2 separate regions of the Homo sapiens genome follow, and region 1 is linked to region 2. Evidence: fine-mapped expression QTL. A gene starts in region 2. The other region holds a variant in brackets. All regions are shown on one strand. Distances are between the middles of the regions. Region 1 overlaps ARAP1 (ArfGAP with RhoGAP domain, ankyrin repeat and PH domain 1). Region 2 holds the start of ARAP1 (ArfGAP with RhoGAP domain, ankyrin repeat and PH domain 1).

Region 1 (8,307 bases), 70 kb before region 2:
GGCCAGGCTGGTCTTCAACTCCTGACCTCGTGATCTGCCTGCCTTGGCCTCCCAAAGGCATCAGCAAACTTCCAATCTCTGAGCTGGACACTTCAAAGTCGCCTTGCCCCATCCCTCTCCTACACTTCCTGTATCGTTTGTTCCAAAGGACAGTAGATTCTCTTAGATCCATCCACTCCCTCCATCCCCACCCCCTGCTTCCTTCCCCCTCCCCTGGTCATGCTCCAACCCTTACCCCAGGTCAACCTCTCTACTCCACCTCCTCCTTGCACCTAGAGGCGGCTTCCAAAGACATCTATCTGGTAATGGAATTCCCTCTCAAAACCTTTGCAGGGCTCCCCAGTGCCCTCAGGATAAAGGCCAAGCTCCTCAGCCTGGCATTTGAGGTCCCTTGTGATCCAGCCCTGACTGACCTCACCATCCTCTGCTCCAGGTGGGGCCAGGTCTGGTCCCTAAGCACACTCTGGTTCTCTCCTCCTCGACTTTGTACAGTGTTTCTCCTCCCAGGCCGACTTCCCCCTCCTCTTCCTTTTCTCTGCCTATCCCAAATCCTAGCCCACCATTGCTGGGCCAGTCAGCACACACCCTGCCTCCCACCCACAAGGACAGGTAGGCAGGAAGGGGCATTGGATTCTGGGCTAGAGACCCTTGGTGGCCTCTCCCTTCCCTAATGTCTCACCCCCCGACCCCCTCTCAGGCTCATCTCATTTCTTCTACAGGATCCTGTTAGCTCAAAAGACAAGCCAAAGTCCTATGTACCTCGGCCCCAGTCCACAGCCTTTGGGTAGCCCGCAACAGGCCCAAGCAGGAAATGTTGATGGAGAAAAGTCAGAAAGGAGGCCGACGGAAATCGGGTGGTGCACAACAGAGCTCAGCTCAGGGGCACACGTGTCTTGCAGACAAGATAATGCAGGTGTGTGGGGATGCAGGCAGTGACGCTTACTGCTCTGTGAGCACCCCCCCAACCCCAGGGCAGGCTGAGACTACCCAGTGTGAGACAGCCCTCAGCTCTCCGGAGAAAGGCTGGTAACTGGTGGAACATGGATTTCACAAAGGGTTGGCCTGAACACCCCTGGGTGACTCCCTCTGGCTGGGGGACAGGATAAGCCCACATCTGGGTCTTTGCAATGGGAGCCCAGGCATGGGGAAGGGGTGGAGTGGGGAGCTCAAGGAGCCATTCCACAGCTTCTCCCCACTCCTCCTCTGCCAGGAAGCTCCCCTCTGTGGCTCTGATGACAATGGCTGAAGGAGCACCATGTCCTTGGGTAGGGCCTGGCATGGGTCTCTGCATTCTCACACTAAGCATGTCCCCCACCACACAAGTGACAAAAGCTTTTGCTGATAAAGGAATGAAAGGCCACCACAGCCCCTATAGTAGTTCCAAGGTGGAGCAGCTTCTTCAACACCTCAGGAAGGTGGCTTTGGGATTCAGGATGGGGCATGAAGGATCCACTTCAGGTTCCAGGATATCTGTCAGAGCTCTCCGGGGAGGAAGGGGTGACCCCAGGTGAGGGCAGTGACCTACCCATGGCTGCTAGGCAGGGGGCTGGGGGGCTGGAACAGATGGCGAGTTCAGGGAAGGGAGAAGCCGCCCAGCCCCAGCTGAGTCCAGGGCCCTCTCCTGCCTCTTTTGTCTTGTGGGTGGGGGTGGCTGCATTGGTCTAGGAGGGATGGCAGAGAAAAGAGGGAGGGAAGTCAGCCTGGAACGCGGCTGGGCCAGACACTCGGAAGTGCCTTCAGCCTCAGGTTGAGATCATCTCCAGGGTTATAAATCAGAGAGAATGAGACGCTAGAGCCAGTTAATCTAATCCTTCACTGTGCAGATGGGAAAACTGAGGTCAGAGGGGTGCCCAGGTAACCCAGTGAGTGAAGGGCGAGGCTGAGCCTAGGACCAAAGACGGTGGCCATTGCCCCACCGGACTACTTCCCCCTCTTCATACTCTTCCACCTCTCCTTCCTCCTCCAACTGAGACAGCAGCCCACAAGAGAAGGCTGTACATATAGCTTGTGACTCTGGGGAGGGCCCCCAGGAATGTGGAATTCCAGCAGGGATGGGTCAGGGCAGAAGTGGCCCCTGTGGCTTCATATTCTGGCGAAGGCTCTGCTCTTCTTGGGGCCTCAGCACCAGCCCCCTCACCACCACCACCCTCCAATCCAGCACACTAGGGATCTTCCTTGCCAGGAGGCCCCGAACCTCCCACTCAGCCCTGAACCACCTCTTCCCCCATAACTCCCCGCACCTGAGGGGGGATGCAGGGGGTGTGACTCAGTGGGATAAAGGCAGCTGCTATATTTGAATTATTACATAAGCCAGGAGGGAGGCAGCTGCAACGTGACTCCATGAAGGTCAGGAGACAAGTTGAGGCTGGGCACAGGAGGCAGGGGTCTCCTCCCCTCTGTCCCTAGACTCCAGCTTGACCTAGGGATTGGAAGTCGGTCTGCATTGCTGCACTGCAAGAAAGGTCTTCCCTAGGTCTAACCACACTAGGAAAGCTCTATTCTCTATCTTCTTAGAAAAATATCCCCTGGTTTCTAGAAACCCTAAGGCCAGACCCAGGCTATGCCCCAGATCCTCCCCCTACACTCTTACCGGTAATAAAGATGGGATTAAAAGCTTTGCCATTCTTTTAAAAGAGCGCCTGATGGAGACAGCAATACACACGAGCCTTGACTCACCTGCCCCATCTGAGAGGGACCTGTGTTCCTGTCCCAGCTACTCCACTTACCAGTCATCTTCCTCCTGGGTCTTGGAATAAAATGGGATGACACATGCAAAGCCTTGGCACAGCAGGTGGTGGGCGCCCCATGATGGTTTCTCGGCACTATCACTTGCATCTTCACTCCCACTGCCAACTCTAAGGGCTGGCTGAAGATCGTGGTGGGAACTGAGGTTGGACTGACCCCTCTGCCCCCAGTCCCCTTTCTGGGTGGAAGGTGGGAGACCGGAGGAGAAAACAGGTCTGAGAGTCAGGAGCTTGGCCAGACTTGCTGTGTGACCCTGGGCAAGCCCCTGCCCTCTCTGGCGCCCAGCTCTGGAGCTGGTGTTTGAGAGAGGATTTCCCAAATGGGATCAGTGACTTGTGGCACTGGAAGCTGCAGTGGCAAGCAAAGTTGGCTGGGGGGATGGGGGTGGGCTGTCCTGGGAATGGTGAGCTGGAGGCAGCCATGGTGGGCACCAGCACAAGGCCCACCTCCTCGGCACCTCCTCTTATGGACCCCACACCCCAGGAGGAGGAAGCTGTGCCCACCCGAACTGTGTTGCCATGACACTGGTCTCCATGGTGCCAGGCACACAGCCCTCCCCTAACCCAATAGGAGGGACTGAAGGTGACAGGAGCTGAGGAGATTCGGGACCTGGGGTCCCTTTCACTTGTCCCTATGCCTCCATCAGCCCTATGAGGTCAGGTCCCCATCCTGAGCCTCTCAGGAGAGCTGGGAGGAGCAGTTTCCACTTCAGAGTCAAGAGTAACAAAGAGAGGCCTCAGAGTGACTTGTGTGGAGGGCAGATACACAGGAACGCAGGGAGGTGGCAGGGCGACAGGGAGGCAGAGAGAGCTGGGGAGGCAGACGGGCAGGGGGAGGAGGGCATGCTAGTCACAAAGGGAGGAGGGCGTCCCAGGCTGACAAGTGGTGAGAGGCACCGTCCAGCCCATCTCTTTGGTCTCAGCATTTGGAAGTGGGTGGTGGTGGGAGGACAGGGTGGAGGAGGAGCAGGAGGGAAGGGGAGCAATTTTCCTAGAGAGCTGTGTGTGGGTGGGTGTTCATCCACGTGCCGTGTGTGTGTGCTCATCCACGTGCCGAGTGTGTGTGTGTGCGCGCAGCATGCACTCGCAGATCTGGAGAAGCAGGCTGAGGTGTGCAGGCACGTGTGTGCAGGCCTGAGTGTGTGTGGCATGTGTGCGCCTGTGCCACTGTGTCTCCAGGGTGATAAATACAGCAGTAGGAGCTGTAACCAGGGCAGAGAAAGTATGGAAATTTCCACAGGCTGGAAGTGGTGTAGGAGAAGGGACATGCTAGGGCTGGGCCAACCCTGGCTGACCAGGGAAACTGTCCCCGACTGCTCTTCCCTAGGTGAGTCCCTGACTAGGTGTGGTGACCTGGGCACATACGCATACCCTAAGTAGGCACAGTGGGATGGGAGAGCAACCCAGAAGAGCTTCCTGAAGGAGGTGTCGTAGTGGAGGAAGGGCTGGGAGGTTCAGGCCACTGCACTTATGTGAGAGACAGTCCCCAGAGCAGGGTCAGGGTCACTTAGGTCACAGAGCTGGCTAAGAGAATAGGAACTGTTCCTTATTCTGATGGGGGATGATCCCAAGGAGCCCACTGGACTGGGATGTGGTCATATCTCAGAGGCAGGCGCAAGGGGGATAGGCCCTAGGGTGCTGTAGGGCACTGTGTCCCAGCCACAGCAGGTAGTGACCACAGCAGGGTCACATCCCCTTGTCTTGTGCTCAGACCACTTCCTCTCCTCCACCTGTGGAGAACTGCCTCTCCTTTCAGACTCACCTCCTCCAGTCTTTCCTGATAATATCCCCTACCAGGAGGTCTCTACCTTCCTCCACACCACTCACTCATCTGCTCCCCCTCAGTGTTCAGTAACGCTCTGCATACAGTTGGTGTTCAATAAGTGCTTGTTGAGTGCAAATATATTGGGACTAGAATATGCCATGATACCTTCTCAGAAACTGCAGACAGTGCAGTGGGAAGGGGATTAGCAAGGGGCAATGCTAGGCACTTCACACTTACTAGCTCATTTAATTGCCCAAACCACTAGGAGGTAGCTACTATTAATACCCGCAAAGTACAGATGACAACATTGAGGATCAGAGACCTAAGTAACTCAGGCAAAGTCACACAGCTTGTAAACAGGAGCACTGGCACCCACACGCGTGCTTTCCAAGACAGCGGGCTGTGGGCAGGTGGCTTGGAGGCCACCAGAGCATGAGGCCAGGAAAGAAGCCCCAGCTCTTGCCCTTCCCTGTCCCACTGATTTCCTTCTCCAGAAGCCCCAGGACTCCTCAGAACTCTGCAGGGTAGGAAGGTTGTGCTGGAAGGAGGCAGGAGAGAGGCAGACATCC[T/C]ACCCCACCTCCCTGCCCCTCTCCCCTCTGCCCCCCAGCCTCCCCTTCACCTGCAGTGCCCTCACCATCCAGGCTCTGACGTGCCTCGGCCTTCTTTCCCAGGGCTCCCCGTATTCCCCAGGGGCTAGGCCTGGATTTGGGTTGGTCCTTGAAGCCCTGTCCTCCTCCCCCAATATTTCAGTATTTCAACCTCTACCCCAACCACACCTGGCAAGGCCTCCGGTCTTCAAAGCTGGCTCAGGAGCACTTCCTTGTCCAGGAAGCCCCTCCCTTTCCAAGAGCTGCTCCTGGCCCCTCTGCAGGTCCAGGTCTGGGGTCTTCAACTCATCCATGGCAACCCAACTTCAAATAATATGTGAATGAGCAAACCATCCAGGGTCCCAACAGGCCCCATTTTTAGGAATCCTTGCGACAAGGACCAGCAGAGCCTCCTGCCCCTAACCCATCCAACACTGTTGTCACAGGCATATTTCATTCCGGCTGAGGCCCTGAGGCTCCTGTTTGGATGTCACCCCTACCCCTTACCAGAGGGAAATCACTTTAAGCCATCACTAACTCCTGACAGTTCAGACCCCCTGCCTCAGGCCATTTCTAAGAGGAGAAAAGGGTTGGAATCAGGAGGGGAGTCAAAGAGGGAGACCCCACCAAAGTAGGGCAGGGGAAATGGACCTCAGGCCTGCTTCACGAGCATGGTGTGACCTTGGGAAAGTTGCCTCCCTTCTCTGGGCCTAGCTCCCCCTTGCCAAGAGCAGACAGTGCAGGGGGCACAGGGGCCGATTCACAGCAGGTACTTGGTAGAAGGCTGTTCCCTCCTCTTCCTGGTTCCCAGAGCCCAGGACTCCAATGCACATTCCTGTATGGTGCTGCCTTCCAGAATGTCACCAGCCTGCAGGCCAAAGGCAGAACTGGGTCCCGCTTCACACCCCAGCAGAGAAAGGTCTGGGCCAGGACCACCACTCAGGCATCCTCCAGACCCTGCTTTGATTCCAGCAATGATGAGTGGTCCATGGCTGCCGCCTTGTGGCCTAGTGCAGGACTGCAGCCAGCACGCTGAGCTGGGGCAGTGGCCTTAGCAGAGCAGGGGGCGCCTCCAGTCTCACCCACTCAGGTGGGCCTCAGGGCTGGCTGGGCAGTGCAAGGTCAGATCCAGGAGCGGATTCCAGCCCCTCAGCACTTGGATAAGGGGGTCCAACCTGTCCTGGCTGGAGGCAGAAGGGTCAGACATTCGACCTGTGGATCTGGCCAGAGCGACCCACAGGAGGTGGGAGACTCAAGGGGCTTAGCCCCAGCCTGTGAAATAGGTCAGTAGGACTCAGGGAACCGGTTCCAGTCTCCTGCCATATACCTCCCCTTCCTGAGACAGCGAGAGGGAACCTGGAGTCCAGCTCCCCAAGTCTTCCGCTGGACCCAGGCTCCCCACTGAGCTGGATGCCTGAGTCGGAGGTCACATGGCCCATCCCCACCCACTCTGCCCAGCCCCACTGGCTGAGGCTAAGGATGGAGGTCAGCCTGTCCGCCCACTGAGCCCCCGAAGAGCGGGTGGTAATGAGGCTCTAGGCAGAGGCGGGAATGTGGTGTCTGGCACCTCCCCAGGGAGTCCCAAACCCATCTCTGAGCAACTCATTATTTCCTCTGCAGGCCAGGGCCTCATCTTCTTAGTGGAGATGGCCAGGCAGTGCCCAGTGAGGGCAGCCCCCTGGTGCATGGCAGGCCCCACCTCTGGAGGGGTAGGCACTGGGGCCACAGGTGACCCAAAGGTGCTTCTTCTCAATTTCCTCAGGCTCCTGTGGCTCTGACCTTGTGTCTCCAGCAGGGGGCTGCTGCAGGGCTGCCAGGCCTGAGTCACTGACACACCACACCCAGGCCCCAGCTGGGACTCAGACTCGGACTGCAGCAGGACAGGGGCTTGTGTCCAGCCAGGGTCAGTGCTGGCCAGGAAAGGACCGGCATTCCCAGCCTGGCTGCAGGATAGTACAATGGGGAAGGCATGGAGTCAAGCCAGGGCTCTGCTTGGGGAAGGGGGTCGTCTGAATAGCTCAGGGCCTGGAGAAAGCAAGGCCTAGGTTCTCAGCTTCAGGCACTAGGCACTCACCCCTGGGCTTCCCGACCTCCTGTCCCCTCCTACCCCAGGACGCCCAATCCCCTTAGCCAATCACAGGCCTCAGCACCATAGGGTAAAATATACAGATATATTTATATTATCAAAAAGTCCCCAAATTGGGGAAGGGGCATCAGGTAGTCTGGACCCCCCACTCAGCCCAGACTGGAAGGAAGGCTGAAGTCCCCAAAGCGCAGCTCTCAGCCCTGTAGAAGCTCAGCCAAGAGCTCCCTCCCCGTGAGCTGAGTGCTCCTCTACAGCACCCGCTTTCTGCTGTTCTGGAGTTTGTTGGGAGGAGCAGGGGGCTCCCTTCCGGCAGGGCCCCAGGGCCTCACGCCTCTGAAAGGGTGGTGGTCCTCCCAAGTTCCTGACTTATGCCCATCTCTCCAGCCCCACAAGGACAGTGAACCCGGTGGGGTGAGCAGGTTGGGCCAAGAGGTCTGAACACCTGGACAGAGTTGGGAGAGGTTCCTGCCCAGGCTGACCCCTGCTGCCTCCCACCCCTGCCGGGGAACCCCATGCTGCAGTCAGGATGGAGGATGTGGGTTGTGGGGTGCAGTTTCCCATGCACCCCCCGCTGGCTCACATCAGGCCTTGGAGCATAAGGGGTGTCTGAACAGAAGGCTTCCAGCGGCGGAATCCTAGAGCCAAGGATGGGCTCCTGTGCTCAGACGTTGCGCAGAAGCTGCAGGAAGGCAAGAGACCCACAGGTATTTTGTGAAGGCCCAGAGGGGCTGGCGCCCCGCTGAAGCTGCTGCAGCTGCTGCAGCCACTCTCCACTGCCAGCCGGGGAGCACTCCAATCAGCCAGGCTCCCAGCTCCCAGGGCCAGGCAGAGGGGACTCCCAGCTTCCAGGGCCAGGCAGAAGGGGCTCCTTTGAATGGTGTGAACCAAAGAGGCCTATGAGGGCCCCCACCAAGGCTGGAGGGAGGGGGCCGGAGGGCAATCGGGGAGGGCAATCAGGGCAATCATCTACTGTGGAGTAGAAGGCAGGCACCCAGCCAGGCCCCCAGCCCCCTGCCCAAAGGCATGGAGAGCCACTCACAGACAGAGGGTCCGCGGTGAAGGCAGCCACACTCCGGCGCATTTCATTTTCACTACCTCGAAGGGGGATCAGTGACACACTACCCA
Region 2 (8,320 bases):
GTAATCCCAGCACTTTGGGAGGCCAAGGCGGGCGGATCACGAGGTCAGGAGTTCAAGATCATCCTGGCCAACATGGTGAAACCCCGTCTCTACTAAAAATACAAAAATTAGCTGGGTATGGTGGCGCGTGCCTGTAATCCCAGCTACTCGGGAGGCTGAGGCAGGAGAATCGCTTGAACCCGGGAGGCGGAGGTTGCAGTGAGCCGAGATCATGCCACCACACTTGAGCCTGGGCTACAGAGCAAGACTCCATCTCAAAAAAAAAAAAAATGATTTGTTATTGAACTGGTCACTTAACTCCACGTCCCCTCCCAGCCACTCTTTGACTGTCCCAGTGGCCTAGGACAGATAACCTAACTATGGGACAGGCTCTTCCCCTCTGTACTACGGCCCAAGGATGAGAAAAAGAGACATTCCACAGGAAGACCATGTGGAACACAATCCATGCATTGCCCCCCACCATCTTTCACATCTGGGGTCATCTGCCTCCAGGTGGGACTGTCCTCCTCAGATCCCTGGTTGGAATGCACATACAGTCTGGGGGCCTGGCCAGGGGTAGGGGAAGGTGGAAAAAATGTTATCTCTGATCAGAGCTGGGGACACTGGGGTTGATTCAGCGGCAGCCTCTGAGTTTTGTGGGGCATGCACATTGGATGGGGATGTCTCCCCACCCACCAAATCCTCATGCTGTTCAGAACCCTGGAGTGGCCACCCTTAGCACAGAACTCCTTTCTAAAACATAACACCTCTCTGCACAGGGCTGTGGAGGGTGCTGACTCTAACCTGCCCAAGACCAGAGAAAGAAATGAGAAGAGCTGCCCGAGGGACTGGACTCTGCTCCAGAGCGGGGACTGGGTCAGCTTAGCTGGGGTCACACACTGTTCAAGGCTGCCTCGGTCACCACCCGGGGAAAGCACCTCACTCAGCCCTGGGAGGTGCTCAAAGAGTAAGATCAAAGTGAAGTCAGACAAAGGAGGCAATGAACACCTGGGTCCTGACCCTGTCTCTCTACCACCCTCCCAATGTATTCTTACACAAGTTACTTAGCCTCTCTGTGCCTCAGTTTCCTTATCTGTAGAATGTCACCTAATTTCTTGGGTTATTGGCAGGGTGGAATTGGTTAATATGGATAAAACTTTACAACAGTGCTATAGGCATGTTTGCTGACCTCATTCTCACTGATGTTATTACTCAGCTTTCTCTAAGGCTGTTACTTCCACTATGATATTGGAGGGTGATGGTCGTCTTATGCTCTTATGCAATTATGTAAATCATTAGATGACAAATGTGCAGTGTCCAGCACACAGCAGGTACTCAACAAAGAATGTTCCCTCTCCCAGCCGGGAGTGGTGGCTCACACCTGTAACCCCAGCAGTTTGGGAGGCTGAGGCGGGCAGATCACGAGGTCAGGAGATTGAGACCATCCTGGCTAACAAGGTGAAACCCCGTCTCTACTAAAAATACAAAAATTAGCCAGGTGTGGTGGCGGGCGCCTGTAGTCCCAGCTACTCAGGAGGCTGAGGCAGGAGAATGGCATGAACCCAGAAGGTGGAGCCAAGATTGTGCCACTGCACTCCAGCCTGGGCAACAGAGCAAGACTCCGTCTCAAAAAAAAAAAAAAAGTTCCCTCTCCCTCTCTCCCCTTTCCCCCAGAGAGGCCAGACTAGGAGACAGAACCTGTCCTGACCCCCACCAGGGGTCTCTGTGTGATCCTACCCTCATCTCTAGCTCTTGGCCTCAGTTTCCCCATCTGTGAAAGAAGCTTTTAGGCCAAATGGTCTCTAAGTGTCCATGGCCATATCTGCTCCAGCCTGTCCCCCACCCTTGTTCCCTCCTTCCTTCCCCATTTCCTACTGCATCCCCTCCTGATGTGACAGAACCCTTGGGAGCCTGAAGCGGGGTAGAGGGGACAGCTGGTGAACAAGAATCACCAGCCCTCAAGGAGCCCAGGGCCCGGTCCAGGCCCCCAAGGGTTAAGACCTAGAGTGAGGGGCGGGGGGCCAGGGTCAGCGCTGGACAGGCGGGCCTGGAGCCCAGGGCCTGCCTCCCCTCCCCCTACCCTGGGAACAGAGGCCACTTGTTTGGGCAGTGGCGGGTGGCTTTGAGCTCAGCCAAGGGAGAGTTGGGTGGGAAGGAGAGAGGGCTCCGGAAAATGGAAGGGACTCCCCACCTCCAGCCGATGCCCTAGGCCTGGTCCACCACTAGCCCCCGATACTCTCAGACACCCCCCCAACCCCTCTAAACTGACCCCTTCCCCTGGGTTCTCTCTTTCTTTCATTCAAACTCTCAATGCTGGAGACAGGACTTAGCAGATAGGCCTATTGCCCCAGCATCTTAGCAGATAGGCCTGACTATTGCCCCAGCACCGTCTCTCTTTGGGGCATGAGGCCAGGGCTGATCACTCCATCCTGCAGATGGGGAAATGGAGGCTCTGAGGAATTTGGGGACTTGTAGAGTCACATAGTGATTGGTGGCTGCACAAGGACTCGGGGCCCCAGGTCCCATGATCCCCATGGCTCTGCAGGCCCCATCCCCACAGAGCTCCAAGGAGACCCTTCCTAAGCTGTGCCATTACACAAGACTGAAGGCTGGGCAGGAAGGAGGGGCAACAGCAGCCCATCTCTGAAACCTGAAGTCCCAAAGGACCTGGGGATTTGAATGGGGAGGAAGCTTCTAGAGGGTTGGGAGGAGGATTAACAATCTGTACAAAAAGCTGAGGCTGGATGTGTGAAGCATGGCTGGAGCCCAGGTGGTGGGGGTATAAAGCTGGGGTTGAGTAGGAGGCTTGAATGCAAAACAAAACCTGGGGGCCATCAGGGCTCTGGTGGCCTCTGCCCCCTCCACCTCATCAGTCACCGGTACTCTGCCTGGGACACCCCCTTCCTAAACTACTCCAATATGCAAGTAGCCAATGGGGAGGCAAGGTCCCCAGGCCCAGTCCTGACAATCCCCAGCCAGGAATGGGACACAGGATGAGTTCTCTCTACACCTCTGCCAGCCACACCCACCTTTCTGCCATTCCTCAGACACACCATCCAAATTCCTGACTTTGCACAAGCTACGCCCTCGCCTTTGGAGGGTCCTTATCCTTGTAAATTGCCACTTAACTGCCAAGCCCATTCCAGTCATCCCCTCCCCTGGGGCCTGCACCTGTCCACACCTGTCTTCAAGGCTCTGCTGGGCTCCTTCTACCCTGTGATGATCTTGCTGGGCAGTCTCTCCCAGCCTGGCCTCTGGGGACTCTCCGCGAACAGGTATCATGAGTGCCTCAGTCTGGGACCCTGGGACCCACCAAAGAGTCAAATCCTTCCGAGTACCCCCAGGTATCTGGCCCTGAAGCACCCCCCTCCCACCTATCTGGGATCAGGGAAGGCTCCCCAGGATATGGGATGTGGGGGAAGGGACGGTATATAGCAGAAACCACAGCGTGATGGCTTCTGGCCAGATTCCCCCCCTCCCCGCCGGCCCTGCACCAAACACCCATCCCCTGCCCCCAGGCTGCACCCTAAGCCTGCTCTCTCCAGGCCCAACCACCCCACTCCCAGCGTGACCCCATTCCCTGAGCACATACTTTCTTTCACCAGCAACTGGGCCAGGTAGGGGCTCTGGGGAAGCCATGCCCCATTTACTGGTGGGGAATTGAGATGCAGAGACCGGAAGTAGCCTGCCCAAGGTCACTGGAGCCCCAGGCCCAGGGCATAGGGTCGTACAGATCTCCAGAAATGTAAAGGTCTCAGCGGCCAACGAGGTGGGAGCCTTCACTTCACAGATGGGAACCCCAAGGCGCCCGAGGGCGGCTGACTCCAGAGACCCTTCACGCCAAAGGGCTACGGGCTGGAAGCCCCGGGTCCCGCTGGTTCACCCCCCTTCCCTACCGTCTCTGGCCCGCTGGCTTATCCTCAAGAGGCGACCCCCCCATCACGCCCAAAAAGGTAAACAGACAAGATGACCCGGGGAAGCAGAAGCAGCGCGCGGCCTCGGCGTTCCTTTCTGCAGAATGGGGAAACTGCAGGCCAATGTGGCGAGGGGCCTGCAGACGGGGAGGCTCCGGCAGCCGCACTGACCTGTTTTGAGTAAAGACTCCACGCGGGGACCAGGCGTACCGGCGCCGCCACCGACTTACACCGCCACCGCCAAATTGCAGCAAGGGGCCGGGCGCGCCCACCCCCCCGGGCGCTTCCGCCCGCCCCACGTGACTCCCGGGGAGGGGAAGGTGGGGCTGGGGCAGGGCAGGGCAGGGCCCCGCCCCCTCATCGGCCCCTCCCCCCGCCTAGTCACGGTCCTGGAGTTGGTTGGCCTGGCCCGCCCGCCGGACCCGTCGGTCTGTGTCTCTCTCCTGCCCCTCTAGCTGCTTGCGGGTCTTCCGACTGTCTCCTGAGGCTCAGGTCTAACCCCCGCCACCTCGCCCGCTGAGTCCACCTCTCCCTGAGTCTCCCTGCTCTCGCCACCCCTCTTCTGGTGAGTCTGCCCTGACATACACCCCACCCACAAGAGGGCCACACCCCCAGGGGGATAGGAGGCAGTTGAAGGCCGTCAGTGGTGCCTGACCACCTCCTCTAGGAAATCCTTCCTCCACCACATTCTTCAAGGGTATCTCACTTCCCTCCCTGGGTGCCCACAGGCAGGGTTGTGGGGAAGCTACCCACCCAGCCACACCTCCCAAGGATCCCTCAGCGGAAGGCTGCAGCCTGAGGTTCCAGCACCCACACCTAGAGAACAGGAGATTCCCACCCATCCTCCCAGCACATACACAGATGAGGGTACCAAGCTTGGCAGACATTTCTGGGTCCTGTGTCCAGAACACCTCCGGGGCCAGCCACGCCAGAGACCTTCCCTGGGCTTCAATTTCTTTATATGCACAAAGGGTATATTTGGAAGAACAGATCTCACATTGCGGGGGATGAGGGTTTACCCCCTGAGAAGAGGAAAGTGTCATTAATTGGAGCACCTACTGCATGCTAGTCCCAGTGCTGGGCAATTTATTCCTTTTATCTCAATCCTTACATTCTGCTTGATGGCAAAAATTATCATCCCAGGTTATGGGTTAGGAAATAAGGCTCCAAGAAGTCTGAGGGCTTGCCCAAAGTTACAAAGCCAGTGTTGGGCAAAGCTGGGAAGCAACCCATTTTTATGAGTTCTAGAATCTCCTGCCTGCCCCCCACTGGCCATTCACCCTGTCCCTCTGGGAAAGAGTTGACTGAGTAGACCGTGTCTTCTGGTGGTAGGGCTAAGGCAAAGGAGCTTTCCGGGAGGGGAGAACAGGGCCAGACCTTGCGGAGAACTTCCGGGCCCCAAGTTCATATGGGGTCAAAAACACTGCAGAGGAGCAGAGCATAGGCCCCTCCTCTGGTCCTGGCAGCAGGGGTGTCCCTTGGGCAGCAGAGGGCACCTGGGGGCCACAGATCACAGGGGAGGCCCAGGCGTCCCTCTAGACTTCAGACCAGCGAGGTGCAGCACAGGGTGAGAAGGCTGGCATCTGACCACTGGCAAGGGGATAGGGGGTCTGGGGACCCTACCATTTCTGTTAACACAGTCCTGAGGTCTTCAAAATGACCTAGGGAGGGCGTGAATCACCAAGCCTGGTCCCCACCAACTGCACTGGAATCTGAGGCCCCTCACCTGCACCCTTGACCTCCCTCCAGGGTATGCTGCCCCAGCCTCAGCTCTGAGACCCACAGCCCTGTGGCTTGAGACCCACGGACCCCTCCACCTCCCTTCTGGGATGACAGGAGTGTCAGACCCCAGTCCATAGGTTGGACCCAAAGGGCCTTGGGCCGAAGGACACAGAGTAGAACCTCACCCTCTGACTCCTGACCCAGGGTCTCTGTCAAGGCCTGCTCCTTCCCTTAGAGCAGAGGTCCCCAACCCCTGGGCCACAGACTGGTACTGGTCCTGTCAGGAACCTGTTAGGAACCAGGCTGCACAGCAGGAAGTGAGCAGAGGCTGAGCTAGCATTACCGCCTCCTGTCAGATCTGCAGCAGCATTGGATTCTCATAGGAGGGAGAACCCTATTGTGAACTGCGCATGCGAGGGATCTAGGTTGTGCGCTCCTTATCAAAATCTAATGATAAATGTGATGCACTTGAATCATCCCAAAACCAATCCTTCCCCAATCCTGATCCATGGAAAATTTGTCTTGCACAAAACCAGTCCCTGGTGCCAAAAAGGTTGGGGACCGCTGCCTTAAAGCAGTGAAAAAGAAAGCAAATAGCCTGGCGTGAATGCCAAAATGACCGCTCAACAAGGACAGCTGGATAGATACGGGCAGAGAATGGAACAGAGTATGGACAGAAGGGGGGCAGTGATAAACCCCGTCTCCTCCCCGCTACACAATGGGAAATGAGGAGATGCTGGAAGGATCAACGGCCGGATGATCAACAACCTTAACAAAATTAAGGGCAGACGCAGGGGACCGCGGCAGCGGCCATGAGGCAGGTGGGAAGCAGGCACAGTGATGAGCCGGCTGAGGCTGTGGGATCGTTTATTGGGGCTCTGTCCAGCCAGGCTGCAGCACCCGCCTGGGCCTGGCCCGGTGCCACCAGGTGCCGGGTGGGGGAGGGGAGAAAGTGCAGGAGCGGCCGCCGCCCCAGGGCTCGCCCGGTCCTGTCTCCGTCCCTGAAGCGGTGCGGCGCTCAGGTGAGCGAGGTGTCGTCGTCGCTGCCCTCGCCGCCCGCGCCGCCCATCCGCTCCTCTCTGCTCTCGGCCACCGCGCTCTCGTCGATGTTCTCCAGTGAGTCCGCATGCTGCACCGACAGCTCCGACAGCGCCAGGCTCGGCAACGGGCTCTGCTCCGGGTGCAGCCACGGCTTGAAGTGAGGCAGGTGCTTCTGTTTCCACTCGGGGTACTTGAGGCACGCCTTGTACATCTTCTTCATGGCCTGTGGGCCCGCCGCCCCGCCGGGTCAGGGGGTGGCTAGGGGGCAGGTCTTCTCCACACCCCCCTCCAGCGGCTCAGCCCCCAGCATCCTGACTGGCTCCCTTTCAAAACTTCACTCCTCAGCCCTACTTGCCCTCCCTGGGCCCTAGGCTCCATTCTCCATTCTTTTTTTTTTTTTTTTTTTTTTGAGACGGAATCTCACTGTGTGGCCCAGGCTGGAGTGCAGTGGCATGATATCGGCTCACTGCAACCTCTGCCTTCCAGGTTCAAGTGATTCTCCTGCCTTAGCCTCCCGAGTAGCTGGGATTACAGGCACCCACCATCACACTCAGCTAATTTTTGTATTTTTAGTAGAGACAGGGTTTCACCATGTTGGCCAGGCTGGTCTTGAACTCCCGACCTCAGGTAATCCACCTGCCAAGGCCTCCCAAAGTGCTGGGATTACAGGCATGAGCCACCACGCCTGGCCCTCAGGCTCCAGGCTTGACTCCACCCACCTCATTCCATAGTCCTCTTTCCAGTCTTCAACACCCCTCCCCAAAATCCCAAGGCCACTCACCTTGGGAGCCAGGAACTGAGAAGATTTATTCACCACCCACTTGGGTAAGGAGCCTGTGAGGGCAGGGAAGGGAGGAAGCAGCCTCAGGGACCCAGCCCCTCCGCCCCTGACAAAAGCCCCACCCTCTGCCCAGAGCTTCCAGGGAGGCCACTGTCTTCCCCATGAGGAGGAGGTGTGTGAGGCAAGTCCTACAAGCCTTTACCCTCACTCCCTTCCACCTCAGACCGAAGTCCTCAGGCTTAGCTCTGTCCCCCACTTTCCCTCTGCCCAGCCTCAAAGATTACGTGGAAGAAAACCACAGGGTCCTAGGTAAGCACAGGCTATACATGGGTGGAAACTCTGACCCACCCTGCTGCACCTGCTGCCTCACTCAATCACACTGACATCCCTTCTCAACCTAACCTCCCTCCCAGGAATGCCCCTGACGCTCAGCCCCTCCCCTGCCTGTCCTTCCAAGTCCTCCCCTGACCACACAGGCCTCTGGCTGAGCACCCCAGCCTGGCCTGACCTGGAATCCACTGCCCAGCTCTCCACCCTATCTCATTCCCAAGTGTCCACTCCACCTCTGACACCCAACACAATGAGGTGCCGGGGGAGTGCTAGGCCTGGACCACTGTGCGCTCTGGGGCTTGAAGCATTTCCAGGCAAGGATGCTCAAGGCTTCCCCATCCTCTAGTCATTCACTCACTCACTCACTCACTCACTCCATGTTCACTGTGACACCCACCCTGGGCCAGCCCTGGGGACCCAGAGAGGAACTCACTGGGGGCCCAACAGGAGCCGACTGTTCTACTAGAGGGGAATGGACTACAGAACAGGGAGCCAGTGACTCCCCTGAGTGTCAGGGATCAGGAGGTGACACCCACAGCACCCCTGGAGGGGC

Evidence for each region. PIP is the estimated chance that this variant, and not a neighbour inherited with it, causes the effect. A credible set is the group of variants that fine-mapping cannot tell apart.
Region 1: its variant is the best candidate, but not a certain one, in a credible set for the expression of ARAP1 in whole blood (INTERVAL, PIP 0.85).

What each region holds. Positions count from the first base shown.
Region 1 is chr11:72,677,821-72,686,127 of GRCh38, forward strand. It overlaps ARAP1 (ArfGAP with RhoGAP domain, ankyrin repeat and PH domain 1), which reads right to left. Exons shown (of 35, transcript NM_001040118.3): 34 at 8,222-8,307; 35 at 7,249-7,861. The coding sequence ends at 7,844. Among named protein-coding and RNA genes, the nearest start is that of PDE2A, 7.6 kb to the left of the region's middle. RefSeq lists enhancers at 2,620-3,445, 6,914-7,473. The variant T/C (reference allele first, on the strand shown) is at 5,079.
Region 2 is chr11:72,748,264-72,756,583 of GRCh38, forward strand. ARAP1 (ArfGAP with RhoGAP domain, ankyrin repeat and PH domain 1) reads right to left here and starts at 4,145. Exons shown (of 35, transcript NM_001040118.3): 1 at 4,065-4,145. It overlaps STARD10 (StAR related lipid transfer domain containing 10), which reads right to left. Exons shown (of 7, transcript NM_006645.3): 6 at 7,438-7,490; 7 at 6,466-6,879. The coding sequence ends at 6,634. RefSeq lists enhancers at 1,007-1,166, 3,826-3,945, 4,556-4,785 and a silencer at 3,996-4,285.